Regions from separate parts of the Homo sapiens genome. Here region 2 is reported to be linked to region 1. Evidence: microRNA targets listed by miRTarBase, many of them from high-throughput screens and not tested one by one. Region 1 holds a microRNA gene; the other region holds the end of a gene's coding sequence.
The links. The annotated mature microRNA hsa-miR-185-5p reads UGGAGAGAAAGGCAGUUCCUGA and lies in region 1 at 3,301-3,322, shown strand. An mRNA with a match to its seed (bases 2 to 7 or 8) in the 3' UTR can be bound and repressed. Matches are read on the target gene's strand: a 7mer-m8 pairs with bases 2 to 8, a 7mer-A1 pairs with bases 2 to 7 and ends in A, and an 8mer does both.

Region 1 (8,296 bases):
CTGGCCCAACTGGAGATGGCACTCTACTGGGGGTGGTTAAGTGTTGACCATCACAAAGGCGACCTCTTTTGTCACATCTGTGTGAGAGGAGCTGGACTTTCTCAGATATGGATGAGCCTCACGACGCACATCCTTTCGTCCCTTGCTTGTCTACCAAGTCCCTATGTGCTCCAGGAGGCAGTGGTACAGGCCAGCCGCTCCGTATGACCAGAGAACCAGTGCCTCACACTCCAGCGCATTTCCTTCCCAGGGTGCACCAGGACTCTTGTAAAGAGGGCATTCTCGTGTAAGCAGTTGCTTTTTTTTTTTTTTTTTTTAATTTTTATTTTTTTGAGATGGAGTTTCCCTCTTGTCTCTTAGGCTGGAGTGCAATGGCACGATCTCGGTTCACTGCAACCTCCACCTCGTGGGTTCAAGTGATTCTCCTGCCTCAGCCTCCTCAGTAGCTAGGATTATAGGCACGCACCACCACACCTGGCTAATTTGTTTGTTTGTTTGTTTGTTTGTTTTTTGAGATGGAGTCTTGCTCTGTTGCCCAGGCTGGAGGACAGTGGTACGATCTTGGCTCACTACAACCTCTGCCTCCTGGGTTCAAGCAAGTCTTCTGTCTCAGCCTCCCAAGTAGCTGGGACTACAGGCGCCCGCCACCACGCCCGGCTAATTTTTGTATTTTTAGTAGAGACAGGGTTTCACCATATTGGCCAGGCTGGTCTCGAACTCTTGACCTCGTGATCCACCCACCTTGGCCTCCCAAAGTGCTGGAATTACAGGCGTGATAATTTTTGTATTTTTAGTAAAGATGGGGTTTCACCATGTTGGCCAGGCTGGCCTCAAACTCCTGACCTCAGGTGATCCACCCGCCTTGGCTTCCCAAAGTGTTGGGATTACAGGCGTGAGCCACCTCGCCCAACCAGCAGTTGCTGTAAAATTTTTTAAAAGGATGTCACTTATACTACCCAGTCATTAAGACTTCCTGAGGTGGAAAGATCACTTCAGCCCATGAGTTTGAGAATAGCCTGGGCAACATAATGAGACCCCACCTCTCCAAAAAAATTTAAAAATTAGGGCCAGGCGTGGTGGCTCATGTCTGTAATACCAGCACTTTGGGAGGCCAAGGTGGGTGGGTCACAAGGTCAGGAGATCGAGACCATCCTGGCCAACATGGTGAAACCCCATCTCTACTAAAAATACAAAAATTAGCTGGGTGTGATGGCACGCACCTCTAGTCCCAGCTATTTGAGAGGCTGAGGCAGGAGAATCGCTTGAACCAGGGAGGAGGAGGCTGCAGTGAGCTGAGATCGCGCCGCTGCACTCCAGCCTAGGTGACAGATCGAGACTCTGTCTCAAAAAAAAAAAATTAGCCGGGTGTGGTGGTATGCAGCTGTAATCTTAGCTACTTGGGAGGCTGAGGTGGGAGGATGGCTTGAGCCCAGGAGTTCGAGGCTGCAGTGAGCTATGATCACACGACTGCACCTGGGCGACAGAGTGGAGGTGATGTGCTTCCTCAAATAGCCATGAGAACAACGCTTCTTTTCTTGTCCTGGCTCAGGAACCTCACCACCATGCCACGTTGCCCTGCTGCGCTGTGCTGGTGTCGTAGGTCGGTGGCAGGACATTTGCCCACCTCACAGGCTCTGCTTTCAGTCTTGAAGTATGGCTCCTCTCGACTGCTGCCCACACGGCCTCCTGTTGTCAGCCTGGGCTACATATCTGGGCTCTTCCATCCCTGTGGGCCTGGTGAGGCCTGGCCATGTGCCTGTGTCATGCCAGTTGCTTTCAAGATGATGTTTCTAGTAGGACCACATGTGAACACAGTGACCACCATGGCCAGGAGGAAGCTGGCTGCCCATCACCAGCTTGCCCAGGGACCTCTTGCACCCTGGCGGGGATCAGCAGATCCTGCTATGAGAGAGCAGAAGGCAGCATGCTGACTTCCAGGAGTGTCCACAGCGTGGCTGGGCAGAGCAGAGCTACAAATGAACAGATCCAGTGCCGAGGCCATCCTGACTCTCTCAGGGGCTGCCAGGCCGTGGGTGCAGGGTCCAGCAGGCCCACTTGATCCCAGCATCCCACGTGTGCCTGCTCGGGGTGGCCAGCTCACTGCTTCTTCACCTCTAGCCCAACCAGCAGGTGCCCCACCATGAGCCCCTCCAGGCTCACCTTGCCCATCCCTGCCATGTGACCTGGGACTCTTGAGATGAGATCACAGCTGCAGAGCACACAGCACAGGGAGGAGCTCATCAGCATCTTCCCACCTGTGGTGCCCTGGCCCAGCCTCCTTCCGGTTGGGGTTGGACCCGCCCTGGCAGCCAGGTTTTGCGTCACCTGCCCCACCCGCCCTGTAACCTACTTGCCCAACTGCTATCCCGGTGGCCGTGAGGCCAGTTGACAGAATGGAGAGGGGTAAGCATTTTCCGCCTGGAGAGGATGGGCGTGTGGCCATCTGACTGCTTCTGCAAGCCTGGTGGTTGTGTGCAGGCTGCCCTGGTGGTCTTAGCCCCTTGGGGCAGGCGGGGTCCTGTGCAGGATGCAGAGACTGGGCGTGGCTTCCTGCAGATGTTCAGATGCTTCTGGGCTGTGGCCTCTGAGACCCAGGGCAAGGCTGCTGACTGGACCCCAGACCCTCCTGCCTGCCTCTTCCTCCAGCTGCTCTTTGTGGTCTGGTTCTGGCCGCCTGGGCCTCAGGGCCAACCCTGCATGGCTTTGACCACTCTGGCCTTCTTGGACTGCCAAGGACATGCTGAGAGTTGGTTGGGCTTGGCCCAAGTGCTGAGCCCAGGGCAGGGGTGGGGACAGGCAGGGCGGAGCCTCACCTGGAAAGCCAGGCACGATTCTCCCTGGGACACCAACCCTCCTGTAGAGTTGGCCAATTCGGGCAACCTTGAGGGCGAGCTCTGTGTGGCACAAGAGATGCCCTGAGGAGCCCAGCCTCACCTGGTGTGATGGGACCTGTGGAAGTTGTGGGAAGTGGTCCTGGCCACCCGTGTGCCCACATGCCCTGCGCCCAGATCAAGATATGGTGACCAAAAGGACAAGGACTATATCCATGGCTCCCTCCCAGAGCCTGGCAAGTCAGCAGGCATGAGAGGGTGTTGGAATGCTGTGGTGGGCCTGTGTGGGGACCTTGTAGGACCTAGGGAACCTGCAGGGCTTGGCTTAGGGAGCACACAGGGGCCCAGGCAAAGGCAAGGTCACAGGTCGGGGGAGGTGAAGCTGGCAGGGGGAGGGGGAGACCTGCTGGCTAGAGCTGGGTTGGGGGCCGGTGGGCAGTGGGCCTGGCTCGAGCAGGGGGCGAGGGATTGGAGAGAAAGGCAGTTCCTGATGGTCCCCTCCCCAGGGGCTGGCTTTCCTCTGGTCCTTCCCTCCCAATGACCGCGTCTTCGTCGAGGCCACAGCCCTTGGCTCTGCGCCCACACCTCCAGTGCCAGGCTGTCCGGAGATCTGTTTATGGCCTTCCCTTGGACCATGGAGCCCTCCCTGCCACTGGTGCCTGGAGGGCTGGTCTGCTGCCCCTGCACCCTGGCCAGCTAGGATGGTGGGGTCCTGCAGCTGAACTGGGGGTGCCTTTCTGCCTGTCTGTCCTACGTGTATCAGTGGCCAGAACTGCCCTCATCCATGGCCTTGCCAGCAGCTGGGCGTGCAGCCCAGGGAGGGCTGAGGTCGGCTGAAGTTGATTGAGACCAACGGCCTTCTCTAACACCCCAGAGGAGCATGTCCCTGGTGAGCAGGCCTTGGGCAGCCCTGGGCTCCAGGCCAGTGGGATTCCAGTAGAGACCAGCTGGCAGGGCTTCTCCAGTGACTGCAGCCAGGGGTTCTCATGTGCAGGAAAGACCAGCTCCTCCAGAGTAAAGGGACTTGTGTCTTCTGGCCACATGGTGAGTGCTGGGCCCACCCCATCAGTGGCACCTTGGGTGCACTCCCAAAGCCCAGCGTGTTCCCCATCTTCCTGCACTGCATTCGGGATGGTTCTGCATCATCAGCTGCACCTGATTGCTCTTAAACCCACAGCTGAGCTTTAATGTGCAGTCACTGAAGCTTTCATTTCTAAAATAGCTTCCTAAGAGTTCTTTTGGCCAGGCATGGTGGCTCATGCCTGTAATCCTAACACTTTGGGAGGCCGAGGTGGGTGGATCACCTGAGGTCAGGAGTTGGAGACCAGCCTGACCAACATGGAGAAACCCCGTCTCCACTAAAAATACAAAATTAGCTGGGCGTGGTGGCGCATGCCTGTAATCCCAGCTACTCGGGAGGCTGAGGCAGGAGAATTGCTTGAACTCGGGGGGCGGAGGTTGCGGTGAGCCGAGATTATGCCAGCCAGCCTGGGCAACAGGAGCAAAAACAAAACAACAACAACAAAAAAAAACCGAGTTCCTTTTGCTGCTTTGTAAACCCAGTTTGCTCTTCATCACTTCCTTTGCCCTGCAGATGTTTCTGAGCTGTCTGTTTTCTTTCTGCCATCAGAGCATGGTTGGTTGATGATGCATGTACGGTTATCTTTCTGCTGGTTCTTGCTCATGGTGCTTCTTTCATTATGTGGTTCTTTCTGACTATGTACTGCTTCTGGTCTTTGAAAAATGATTTTGAGACTTCTTTGAAGTATAGGATGAAGGTATCTTTCTCCAGAGAGAACTTCAGGCACAGGGGCACTACGAGTGCTGGAACCCCTTAAAACTGTGCTTGGCTTGTGGGTCCTTGTACCCCCAGTGTGGACCTGGACGGCTGGCTGTGCCACAGCTTCTCAGAAACTTCCCTTCACTTATGTGCAATGTCCCCATAACCCCTGGGGGTGGCTGCGGCTGTAGTTCATCTCTCCCTAAGCATCGCTCTTTGGAGTCCCAGCCTAACTTAGAGGAGAGTCTTCTGTTAGGTTCTTCATCCTGTGGGGGTGACTGGACCTTGTCTTCTGTCTCCTTCGCCCCCGAGGCCACCAGAGTATGAGCCCCAGTGTGTTCAGTGGGCAAACGCTCTCAGGCAGGATTGGCCACTGTGTTCTGCTGTCCTCTGTGGGCCACGCTCTCCGAACTGTTGGCCAAATGCTGCATGAGCTCATCAGCTCCTGGCAATTTTTAAGATGTTTTCATATTTCATCCAGCATCTTGAGTTGTTTTTACCAAAAGGATTGCCCCTAGTAGCCTGCCCACCCTCGGATGATGGCCCCCTGTGGGCGCTTCCAGGGCACCCGGCAAGGGGACCCAACCCACTTCCAGCCCCACAGTCTGCTTCCCACAGGGCCCCCTTGCAACAACACACCCTTTAGCTTCCCATCCTATGCAGAGTGGTGGCCAGCAGACCATCTCAAATGGCTGCCCATCCCCCTGACCCAGTGCGTCTGCACGTGGCGCTTATTGCTATCCCAATACTTCAACTGCACAGCCACCAGCTCCTCACTGGAGCAGATGGTCCCCAATGGCCATCCCTAATGCCCGTGCCTATGGAGGCACATACACTGAGCCCTCTTCACCTCCGTCCCCACTCATTAGACTTTTCTCAGAGGAATCTTTTTGGGTCTCTTCAGTATTTGAACAGCTTCTTGGCTGTCCCATGTCCCAGCTGTGAGCACTGGCTCTGCCCTGGAGCCGTGTCACTAAATCATTGCACATGTGCACATTTCAGGGAACTTGGGTGTCACCCTTGGGTGGCCTCGGAATCTAATCTCCGTTCTGCACTCGTTTGCATTGTGGAAAACTGCCTGCTCTGGGCCCCAGAGGTCCCTGGGTGGGGACGAGGTGTATGCTAAGTGTGCAGTCACCCAGCGTGTCCCCGGCACGTGTCCATGCCAGCTGCTGTGGGTGTGTGGGGCCTTCGGGTCCTGTGGGATGGCGAGTGTGTGTGCTGAGCAGGACCTGTAGGGCCTGCATCCCAGGTGAGTGGGCCATGCTGTTGGAGGCGGAGGCAGGGCTGCCCCCACTGGTGGCGTGTGGGGTGGGTTTGGTGCTGTTGCAGGGGAGGAGATGTGCATGTGGGGGACAGTCTTGAAGGAAGAATGTATACAGTGGTCTATTTCCAAGACAAAGTGTCTTAAATTGGCTTAGCTCAGCAAACTACAGAAGAAACAGGATATACTAGGCCACCCTGCTTGGATAGCTGATGTGTGCTTGTCGGCCTCCACTTTCCCCGCACTTAGTTGCCTTCACCCGAACCAAAGAAGTTCAGTCTAAGCTGAAAGTTTACTAGCCTGCAAAATAGCTCATTTTGTCTGTTCTTATCAGCCTGCCTGCTACTTAGGTCGTAAGTTAAATACTTAAAAAGTCCCTGAGCTAACTAGGACTGCAATGCATTGTGGGCTGCAACAAAATACAGCAAGACAAGCCCCCAAAAAAACACCTGAAGCCCCTACCCAACAATTAATAGGCGACGTCCGGGAAAATTGTGACCCCACAGTACTCGGCCTATGAGGAACTGGGGGAGGGACCTGCGTACTAGGGGATAAATTGCTTGTCGAAACTGTGCTGGGTGTGCCTGTCTGACACCTGATCTTGCAAGACTGTCATTAAAAGTCTCACTTTCGCTGTTCTCTGGGTCTGAGTTCATTCTTTAGATTTGGATGGGTAAGTTTGTTTCTCACAGTGTGGCTCCTGCCCTCACTTCTGCTGCCCCCCGGGGACCCCCTCGGCACCCCAGCTCGGTGTGTCCAGGCCTTAAGACTACCATGGTGCTGATGGGATGCTTCTGTTCAGGGCTGGTGTTGCAGGTGGTGGAGAGACAGTCTGGCCAGTGCCAATGAGTGCATGGGTTTGGGAGTTGTTTGTGTGGCACCGGCCAAGAGTGTGGTGTCCAGTTCCCCCACACCCAGCAAGTAGTACAGACACCACAGAGGTGGTTCTCTCTGTTCTGGCCTGTTGCAGGTTCGGAGGGCAGCCCTGAGTGTCTGCCATCCGCTCAACTCAGTGTTTTCCTTTTCCCGCAGACCTCGCGACCTGTGTCAGCAGAGCCGCCCTGCACCACCATGTGCATCATCTTCTTTAAGTTTGATCCTCGCCCTGTTTCCAAAAACGCGTACAGGTAACCCCCTCGCTCTGCATCTGCTGCGCCCTGCAGGGTCCTGGGTGCCCAGCCAGTTCTCATGCCACCCAAGCTGCTGTGTGCAGGAAGGTGTGTGGGCCAGGACGGGGCTGCACAGGCCTGGCACTGCCCTCCAGGACAGGGTCACTCAGTGTGGGATGCTGTCAGAATGCCTCTCGGGGCGGGGACTCCAGTCAATGTACAAAGACGTGAAGACTCAGCCACAGAAGGCAGCCACAGGTAGGACAGAGGAGTGACATGGGTCCAGGTGGGCTGCAGTTCTATGGGCTTTGAGGAGGGTCGGGCGGCAGAACTGGGACAACGGCGTCAGTGAGTGAGAGCCAGCTTGGGCTGGCGGGTCACAGCTGCTGGTGAGAAGTCAAAGTGGCGGCCAGGCTAGGGGTCTGTGGGTGGGTCCTGAGCTGAGGAAAAAGAACCTGGGGAAGAGGGGACGCTGAGGACCAGCCAGAGGAGTCAGGAAATCGAGGCCAGAAGCCACCCCTGACCCTGGACTCAGGACGGCCACACCTCCATTCCCCAGGACACCCCAGCATTTATCCACACAGAGAACGAGGCAGAGATATAACCCACATCTAAAATGAAACGTGTAACCACTCTCTAATGCAACTGCTCGGGAAGTTTTCATCATTTTAAAATCTGTACCAGAAATGATTTGAACCATTTCAAGAGGGTCTCAGATTTGAGTCACTGCAAAGTTGCATAGACACCATGCTGCTTGACTTCAAGGCTGAGTGAAGTCATTTCAGGCCAAGGAATCAGGAAGGAAGGGTGTCTGGTGTTTTCCCTTTTTGCAGTTGGGTGAGTGGCAGGTCCCAGCAGCAGACAGCATGCTGCAGGGAAGGTGGAAGAAATGTTAGGAAAGAACTATTGACTGCTACAGGGACTGGAGTAGTGTTGGGCTGGCTAGTGAGTGAACAGAACTCTAAAGAATGTAGGGGCTGGCCGAGCACGGTGGCTCACGCCTGTAATCCCAGCACTTTGGGAGGCCAAGGTGGGCGGATCACAAGGTCAGGAGATCCAGACCATCCTGGATAACACATCTCTACTAAAAACACACAAAAAAATTAGCTGGGCATGGGGGTGGGCGCCTGTAGTCCCAGCCACTTGGGAGGCTGAGACAAGAGAATGGCGTGAACCTGGGAGGCAGAGCTTGCAGTGAGCCGAGATTGCGCCACTGCACTCCAGCATGGGCAACAGAGCGAGACTGCATCTCAAAAAAAAGATGAAGGTAAAATAAGGTCATGTGGGTAGGCCCTAATCAATGTGATGGGTG
Region 2 (7,648 bases), not on the chromosome of region 1:
TGTGTCCCTACTATGTGTCAGACATCTTCTGTAAGTCCCCACACTATCCTGGCAAGAAAAGCATGATTATCCCAGTTCTATAGAAGAGAAAGTAGGGTCAAAGAGGCTAAGGAACTAGCCTGGGATCACAGATTTTTAACCCTAGTCTGTCTCCAGGATCACCCGCAGGAGTAACTCAGCTCAGGAAGCAGCTGCTGACGTGCCCAGCAACTCCTCACCCCAGCTTTCTGGCTTGGTTACTCCATTAGTCCCCACCAGCACCACTTCCTCCCAGCTCTTAAAGATTCTATTCCCAAGTCCATTTCTTTCACATCTAGAAACTTAGGCTTCTTTCCTTCCGTTACTTCCAGTGCTGGCTGAAGATGCAATCAAGGCCGCCCTGGCTGATTACAAATTGAAACAAGAACCCAAAAAAGGAGAGGCAGAGAAGAAATGAGCCCTCCCTCGGCGAAGCCTCCAGCAGGCCACACCAGCTGTTTCCCACCTGCTGTGCAGTCACCTTAGATGTTCAGAAGCCGCTTCCTCTCCACTGAAGAGCTATGAGATACGCACAATACTTGCTGTTCACGTTATGACTCTCATGCAAGCAAAATACACAGTTTCATTGTTCTGAATCCTGTGGTTTCTTTCAGCCCACTTTTATCGCCTTAACCTAGTTAATGTATATTTTGAATTGTGTGTATGACCTCAGAACTGAAATTGATAATGAAGTTGCAAGTTTTGATAGCCCGTGAAGTGCATAAGTATCTAATTTTACCTGAATTGATTTGGGGGGAAATTACCAGTAGAATGCCTTGGTCTGAATATTTGATAGAACCAATTGTTGTACATAAAACAGATTGCGCATATATATATATGTATAAAAAATAATAAAATAATGGAAGATGATGGTGTTCTCTAGTAAGCCTTGTCTCTTGGGCCCATCATTCACCCTGAAGTGGTGCCCAAAGCCCCTTGGGGTTCCCAGAGGTTGGACCGCAGTGACATACACAGCTCTCCAAGCAAACAAAGACAAATATACGTAATATTTTTTGGAACAAGGATGAAAGGAGATGATTATCGCTTGTCATTGTTCTTTGTGTGATAGTAGTTGAAAGCTCAAAGTAAGTCTTGAAGATTCTTTCTGTAATTTCACTGGTTGCTCAAATCTAAAAAGCATTAGCTTGGCACCCTAAAGCGGTAGACCAGATACATGAAGAGCACCTCGGGAATGAGTTTAAAATGCGGATTTCTAGGCCCAAGTTTCTGACTTCTGTCTGGGCAGGTAATTCCAGAGCCCCTGACTTTTAAGAACCTCTTGGGTTTTTTGTGGTCGTAGATGAGCCAAACTTTAGGGAAGAAACTTCTGAATGCTGTGTTCTGCATAGATGTAGTATCTTAAGTGGTTCATTCTGAACTATCTGTACCTGCATAGTACACCTAAGGTTGTTTAAAAAACATTCATCCAGCCGGGCGCAGTGGCTCACACCTGTAATCCCAGCACTTTGGGAGGCCAAGGCGGGTGGATCACGAGGTCAAGAGTTCAAGACCAGCCTGGCCAAGGTAGTGAAACCCCATCTCTACTAAAATTACAAAAATTAGCCAGGCATGGCGGCACGCACCTGTAATCCCAGCTGCTCGGGAGGCTGAGGCAGGAGAATCACTTGACCTGGGAAGTGGAGGTAGCAGTGAGCCAAGATCACACCAGTGCACTCCAGCCTGGGAGACAGAGCAAGACTCCGTCTCAAAGCCAAACAAACAAACATTCATCCCTGGCTTGGGCATAAGTCTAAGCACGGGCCCTCCTACCCTGATGTCTCCCTATTTTTAGCTACCCATAGTCATGCAAATCTCAATAAAGGATGCCCTATCTTCTAGTGAAAATGGGTTATTGAAATATTGACTGCCATAGTCTCAAATGTTCAGCTTCAAAAGTAAGATGTGTTTGTTTTTTCTGGTGGTGGTTTTTTTGTTCAGGTATAGGCTGGCTGCCTCTTAAATATACCTCCCTTGTTTTTTTTGTTGTTTTTTGTTTTTTTGTTTTAATGCTCTGGGTTCTGGTGGAGGGCACAGAACTTCAAAGACTGTTCCTTCTGTAGTCTGTGAAGGCAGCCACAGACCAGGGCCTTTATAGGAATCTCAAATTAGAACCCTGGGTAGAACCATGTAAAATTGTCCTGTGTGGCATGTTCTGCAATTTAATTCACAGTCCCTCTAGACTGAGCTTGTCTCTCCCTTCTTTATTACATGTGGCACCACCACAATTCCCCACCACTTTTCTTTGTGATTTTTTTAATTTAAATGAGACATTTCTGTCCCAGTGAACATCCTCAGAGTTGAACATCAGGAGGAGCTTATAAACAAAGCAATATTCCCAGAAGAGCCCAAGTCTCTAAACGTGGTTGTACTGCTAAAACAAATGGATATTTTTTAAATTCACATTAAAGACACTCTTTCCCCAAACAAATCTAGTTTGAGCCACATGAGGGCATCATGTGCCCTTCAGTGAACTCAAGTCTAGGGGTTTTTGCAGCCTCCAAATAGGTCTTAGCATCTCTAAATAAACCTGTCCATGGAAAACCTCCACAGATAAGTTAAAATGGTCTGTCAAGCACCTGTGCTCTGTTCCAGGCCCTTACATCTGTAATCCTGTTAATTCTCATGACAGCTGCCTGCAGTGGGCATTGATTCAAACAAGGACACTGGCTCAAGAAGCCAACTGACCCTCAGGCCAACTGGCTTGATCTGAGTGACCCAAAGCCCATTCTTCTGCCTCACCCCTCCTGGCAGAACACACCAGGGATTCAAACTGCACATCAGAGGCTCACCTGTGCCTTGAACATTCAATGAAGAAGCTGAACCAACACAGGTTGAGCCTGATGCATTCTCTTGGCCAACTGGCTGCCAAGCACCATGGCCCTCACGCCAACCCTGGCTCCCACCAGGAGCCTAATTAAATCCTGATGCCAAGTTAAATCCAATGCTCTGGAGGTGGGGCCTGGGCACTGGCATCACCTGATGGGCTGGGTGGGTTTATGGGCAGATGGATGGATGGGGAAGCAGAGGCTCCGAGAGGTGAAATGACTTGCCTCAAGGCACACAGCTAGGAAGTGGTAGAATTGAGCTCTGGCTGAGGTCTTCTGCCCACCTCCCACCCTCTCCTGAGTGCCACACTACAGCTATGACCACATCTCGGATGTAACCTTTCCTAAGTGTGATTCCTGGACCAGGGCCACCCGGGACCACATCCAAATGCACAGTTCTAGAACCTCACATTAAGCATTGTCTTGTAAAAACTACTTGGCCCTAGGATGAATTTTCTTAAAAAGACAAACAAATGAGGCACACTTCTCGATACTTCAGGCCCTTTGAACTTGAGGCAAGAGTGCAGACCTTGTGTCTATCTTCACGACAGAAGAGAAGACTTCTAGGTCCCACCAAGTTTTGGTGGTGTTAGAGGGCCCCTACAGATGAGTTCCAGCCCCAACCAAAGATGGACGTGGAGCACATCCCCTGCCAATGGCTCTTGGAGGCCTGTCTGCTTGCTTTCCCCACCCCCCGAGATGACATCAGCCAGCCCCTCAAAAGGCCACCTCCCCAGAGAAGATCATCTCCACCCAGGGAGCAAGCAGCAGGGCAGAGTGGAGTGAGCTTGGAGTGTTGAATCAAATGCTGGCTACCGCTGTGTGACCCTGAGCGAAAGGCTCAACCTCCCCAAGCCTCAGTTTATTCATCTGCAAAATGGGAAAGATAATAGTACCTACCTGATCAGGTAGACCTGACGATTAAATGAGATAATACATGGAAAGCACATGGCACACAGAGTTCACTGTTGGCCAGGTACAGTGGCCCATGCCTATAACCCCAGCACTTTAGGAGGCCAAGGCAGGAGGATTGCTTGAGCCCAGCAGTTAGAGACCAGCCTGTGAGGCAGGAGAGGTAGTCAAGGAAGTGACCATGTCCTCGAGATGCAGCATCCGTGATGACTGTACAGTCAACACAATAAGCCTCAGCATTCACATTGTAATTGAGCAAAGCTCAAGCAAAGCTATCTTCAGTAGGGACTTTCCCCTCTAGAGAGTGTGCGCACTTTGATTTAGCTGTCCTCAAACTGACCCTTTGCTCATTAAAAGAGTAAAAAACACACCCCTAGGTGGAGATTTAAGATGCGAATGAGACATGCAATGTATGAACAAGCACGTACAGCTACTGTGCGTGGGCACCGAAAGGACCACCCAGAACATGCTTACTAGTAACACCTCTCTCAACCCCTTATGAATAATGATGTAAAACCCCCACAAAGGGAGTCTCCCAGCAATAATCAATGCTGTCCTTAAGAGCAGCCTGCCCTAAATCCTGTCTCTCTCAGGGTGTCCTGTCCTTTCTGTACCTAACTTTCAAAATGTTCTTTTTCCTCTGCAATAAATTACTCTATGCTGCACCTCCCCTTTGCTGTGTGTCTCTTGTCTATATTCTTTTAAACTAAGAAGGCAAGAACTGAGATCTTGCAACAATTGTCAATACTTGGGCAAGATGGCAAGACCCCATCTCTACAAAAAATAAAAAAACTAGCTGGCTGTGGTGTCGTGCACCTGTCGTGCACACTACAGTATCATGCACCTGTAGTCTCTGCTACTTGGGATACTGAGGTGGGAGGATCCCTTGAGCCCAGGAGTTCAAGGATGCAGTGAGCTGTGATGGCACCACTGTCCTCTAACCTGGGTGAGAGAGTGAGACCCTGTCTCTTAAAAAAAAAAAAAAAAAAAAGAGGAAGGAGAAGAAGAAAGAAAGAAAAAGGAAAAAAAAATAGTTCATTGCTGTTATGGTGGTTCTCATTATTACAGGTAACACTTCAGCCCTGACTACATACTAGGCACTGTTGCTGGGTGTTTTATATAGATCAGCTCATTTGCCTCACAAAAATCCTAAAGTACTATCAATATCCCATTTTACAGATAGAGAAACTAAAAGGTAAAATGATGTGTCAGCAAATGGTAAGATCAAGATTCTAGCTCAGAGCTGTTTGATCTAGAGCCCAAGCCCCTGCATGCTATGACTGTACTTTCTCTACTGCTATTTTCACTATTACTATTTGCATTGGTATTATTACAGGCACACCTCAGAGATGTTGCAGGTTCGGCTCCAGGTCACTGCAATAAAGTAAATGTTGCAATAAAACGAGTCACACAAATTTTCCCAGTGCATATAAAACTTATGTTTACACTAAACTGGAGTCTGTTAAGTGTGCAATAGCATTATATCTAAAAAAAAAAAACCCAATGTGCATACCTTAATATAAACATAGTTTGTTGCTAAAAAAAAATGCTAACAGTCATTGGAGGCTTCGGTAAGTCATTATCTTTTTGCTGGTGGAGGGTCTTGCCTCAATTTTGACAGCTGCTGACTGATCAGGCTGGGAGTTGCAGAAGGTTGAGGTGGTTGTGGCAATGTCTTTTTTTTTTTTTTTTTTTTTTTTTTTTTTGAGATGGAATCTCGCTCTGTCGCCCAAGCTGGAGTGCAGGGCTGCGATCGATCTTGGCTCACTGCAAACTCTGCCTCCCAGGTTCAAGCAATTCTCCTGCCCGAGTAGCTGGGATTATAGGCATGTGCCACCATGCCTGGCAAATTTTTTTTATTTTTAATAGAGATGGTGTTTCGCCATATTGGCCAGGCTGGTCTTGAACTGCTGAACTCAGGTGATCCGCCCTCCTCGGCCTCCCAAAGTGCTGGGATTACAGGCACGAGCCACTGCACCCAGCCATAATTTCTTAAAATAAGACAACGCTGAAGTTCATCACTTTGATTGCCTTTTCCTTTCACAAAAGATTTCTCTACAGCCTGTGGTGTTAGTTGATAGCATTTTACCCATGGTAGAACTTCTTTCAAAATTGGAACCTATTTTCTCAAACTCTGCCACTGCTTCACCAAATTTATTTCCTTCCTTCCTTCCTTCCTTCCTTTCTTCTCTCTCTCTCTCCCCTTTCTTTTTCTTTCTTTCTTTTTCTTTCTTTCCTTTCCCTTCCTTCCTTCCTTCTCTCTCTCTCTCCTTTCTTTCTTTCTCTTTCTTTCTTTTTCTTTCTTTCCTTTCCCTTCCTTCCTTCCTTTCTTTCCTTCCCTTCCTTATTTTGAGTCAGAGTCTTGCTCTGTTGCCCAGGCTGGAGTGCAGTGGCACAACCTCAGCTCCCTGCAACCTCCGCCTCCTGGGTTCAAGTGGTTCTTGTGCCTCAGCCTCGCAAGTAGCTGGGATTACAGGCGTGCACCACCATGCCCAGCTAATTTTTGTATTTTTAGTAGAAATGGGGTTTCCCCGTGTTGACCAGCTGGTCTCAAAGTCCTGTCCTCAAGTGATCCACCTGCCTCAGCCTCCTAAAGTTCTGGGATTACAGGCATGAGCCACCATGCCAGGCCCACCAATTATACTTATGTAATGTTCTAAATCATTTATTGTTCTTTCGACAATGTTCACAGCATCTTCACTGGGAGTAGATTCCATTTCAAGAACCATTTTCTTTGTTTATCCATAAGAAACAACTCCTCATCTACAGACTCTAGTTCTAATTCTAGTTCTCTTGCTATTTCCACCACACCTGTCGTGTGGATTCTCTCTCTGTCGCCAAGGCTGGAGTGCAGTGGTGCGATCTTGGCTCACTGCAACCTCCGCCTCCCAGGTTCAAGCAATCCTTGTGCCTCAGCCTCCTGAGTAGCTGGGATTACAGGTGTGTGCCACCACACCTGTCTAATTTTTGTATTTTTAGTAGAGATGGGTTTTCACCATGTTGGCCAGGCTGGTCTCAAACTCCTGACCTCAAGTGATCTGCCCGCCTCCACCTCCCAAAGAGTTGGGATTACAGGCATGAGGCACCGGGCCCAGCCAAAATGTGTTGTTTAATTTTAATAGAGATGGGGGTCTCGCTATGTTACCCAAGCTGGTCTCGAACTCCTGGTCTTAAGCTATCCTCCTGCCTTGGCCTCCCAAACTGCCAGGATTACAAGTGTGAGCCACCACACCCAGCTGAAAATTTGTTGTTTAGTGTAGTCGTCTTCGTCAGTGATCATAGCTAGGTCTTCTGGATAACTTGATGTGATTCTCCATCAGCACTTGCTGCTGCCCCTTGCACTTTTATGTTATGGAGATGGCTTCTTTAAACTTCATGAACCAACCTCTGCTAGCTTCCAGCTTTTCTTCTGCAGATTCCTCACCTCCATCAGTCTCCATAGAATTGAAGAGAGTTAGGGCCTTGCTCTAGATTGGGCTTCGGCTTACGGAAATGTTGTGGCTGGTTTGATCTTCTCTCCAGACCATGGTGATGTGCAATCCACAACAGCAATAAGGCTGCTTTGCTTTCTTTTTTTTTTTTTTTTTTAGACAGAGTCTCACTCTGTTGCCCAGGCTAGAGTGTAGTGGCATGATCTTGGCTCACTGCAACCTCTACCTCCCGGGTTCAAGCAATTCTCTGCCTCAGCCTCCCGAGCAGCTGGGATTACAGGCACGTGCCATCGTGCCAAGATAATTTTTGTATTTTTAGTAGAGACAGGGTTTCACCATCTTGGCCAGGCTGGTCTTGAACTCCTGACCTCGTGATCCACCCACCTTGGCCTCCCAAAGTGCTGGGATTACAGGCATGAGCCACCGCGCCCGGCCAGCTGTTTTGCTTTCTTATCGCTTGTG

Region 2: miRTarBase lists ISCU as a target of hsa-miR-185-5p. Seed matches in the 3' UTR shown: 7mer-A1 at 523-529.

What each region holds. Positions count from the first base shown.
Region 1 is chr22:20,029,853-20,038,148 of GRCh38, forward strand. It overlaps MIR185 (microRNA 185), which reads left to right and starts at 3,287; the gene lies at 3,287-3,368. TANGO2 (transport and golgi organization 2 homolog) reads left to right here. Exons shown (of 9, transcript NM_152906.7): 2 at 6,908-7,002. The coding sequence starts at 6,947. RefSeq lists enhancers at 1,301-1,997, 2,432-2,651, 4,335-4,404.
Region 2 is chr12:108,568,481-108,576,128 of GRCh38, forward strand. ISCU (iron-sulfur cluster assembly enzyme) reads left to right here. Exons shown (of 5, transcript NM_213595.4): 5 at 351-888. The coding sequence ends at 436. Among named protein-coding and RNA genes, the nearest start is that of ISCU, 9.7 kb to the left of the region's middle. RefSeq lists an enhancer at 456-605.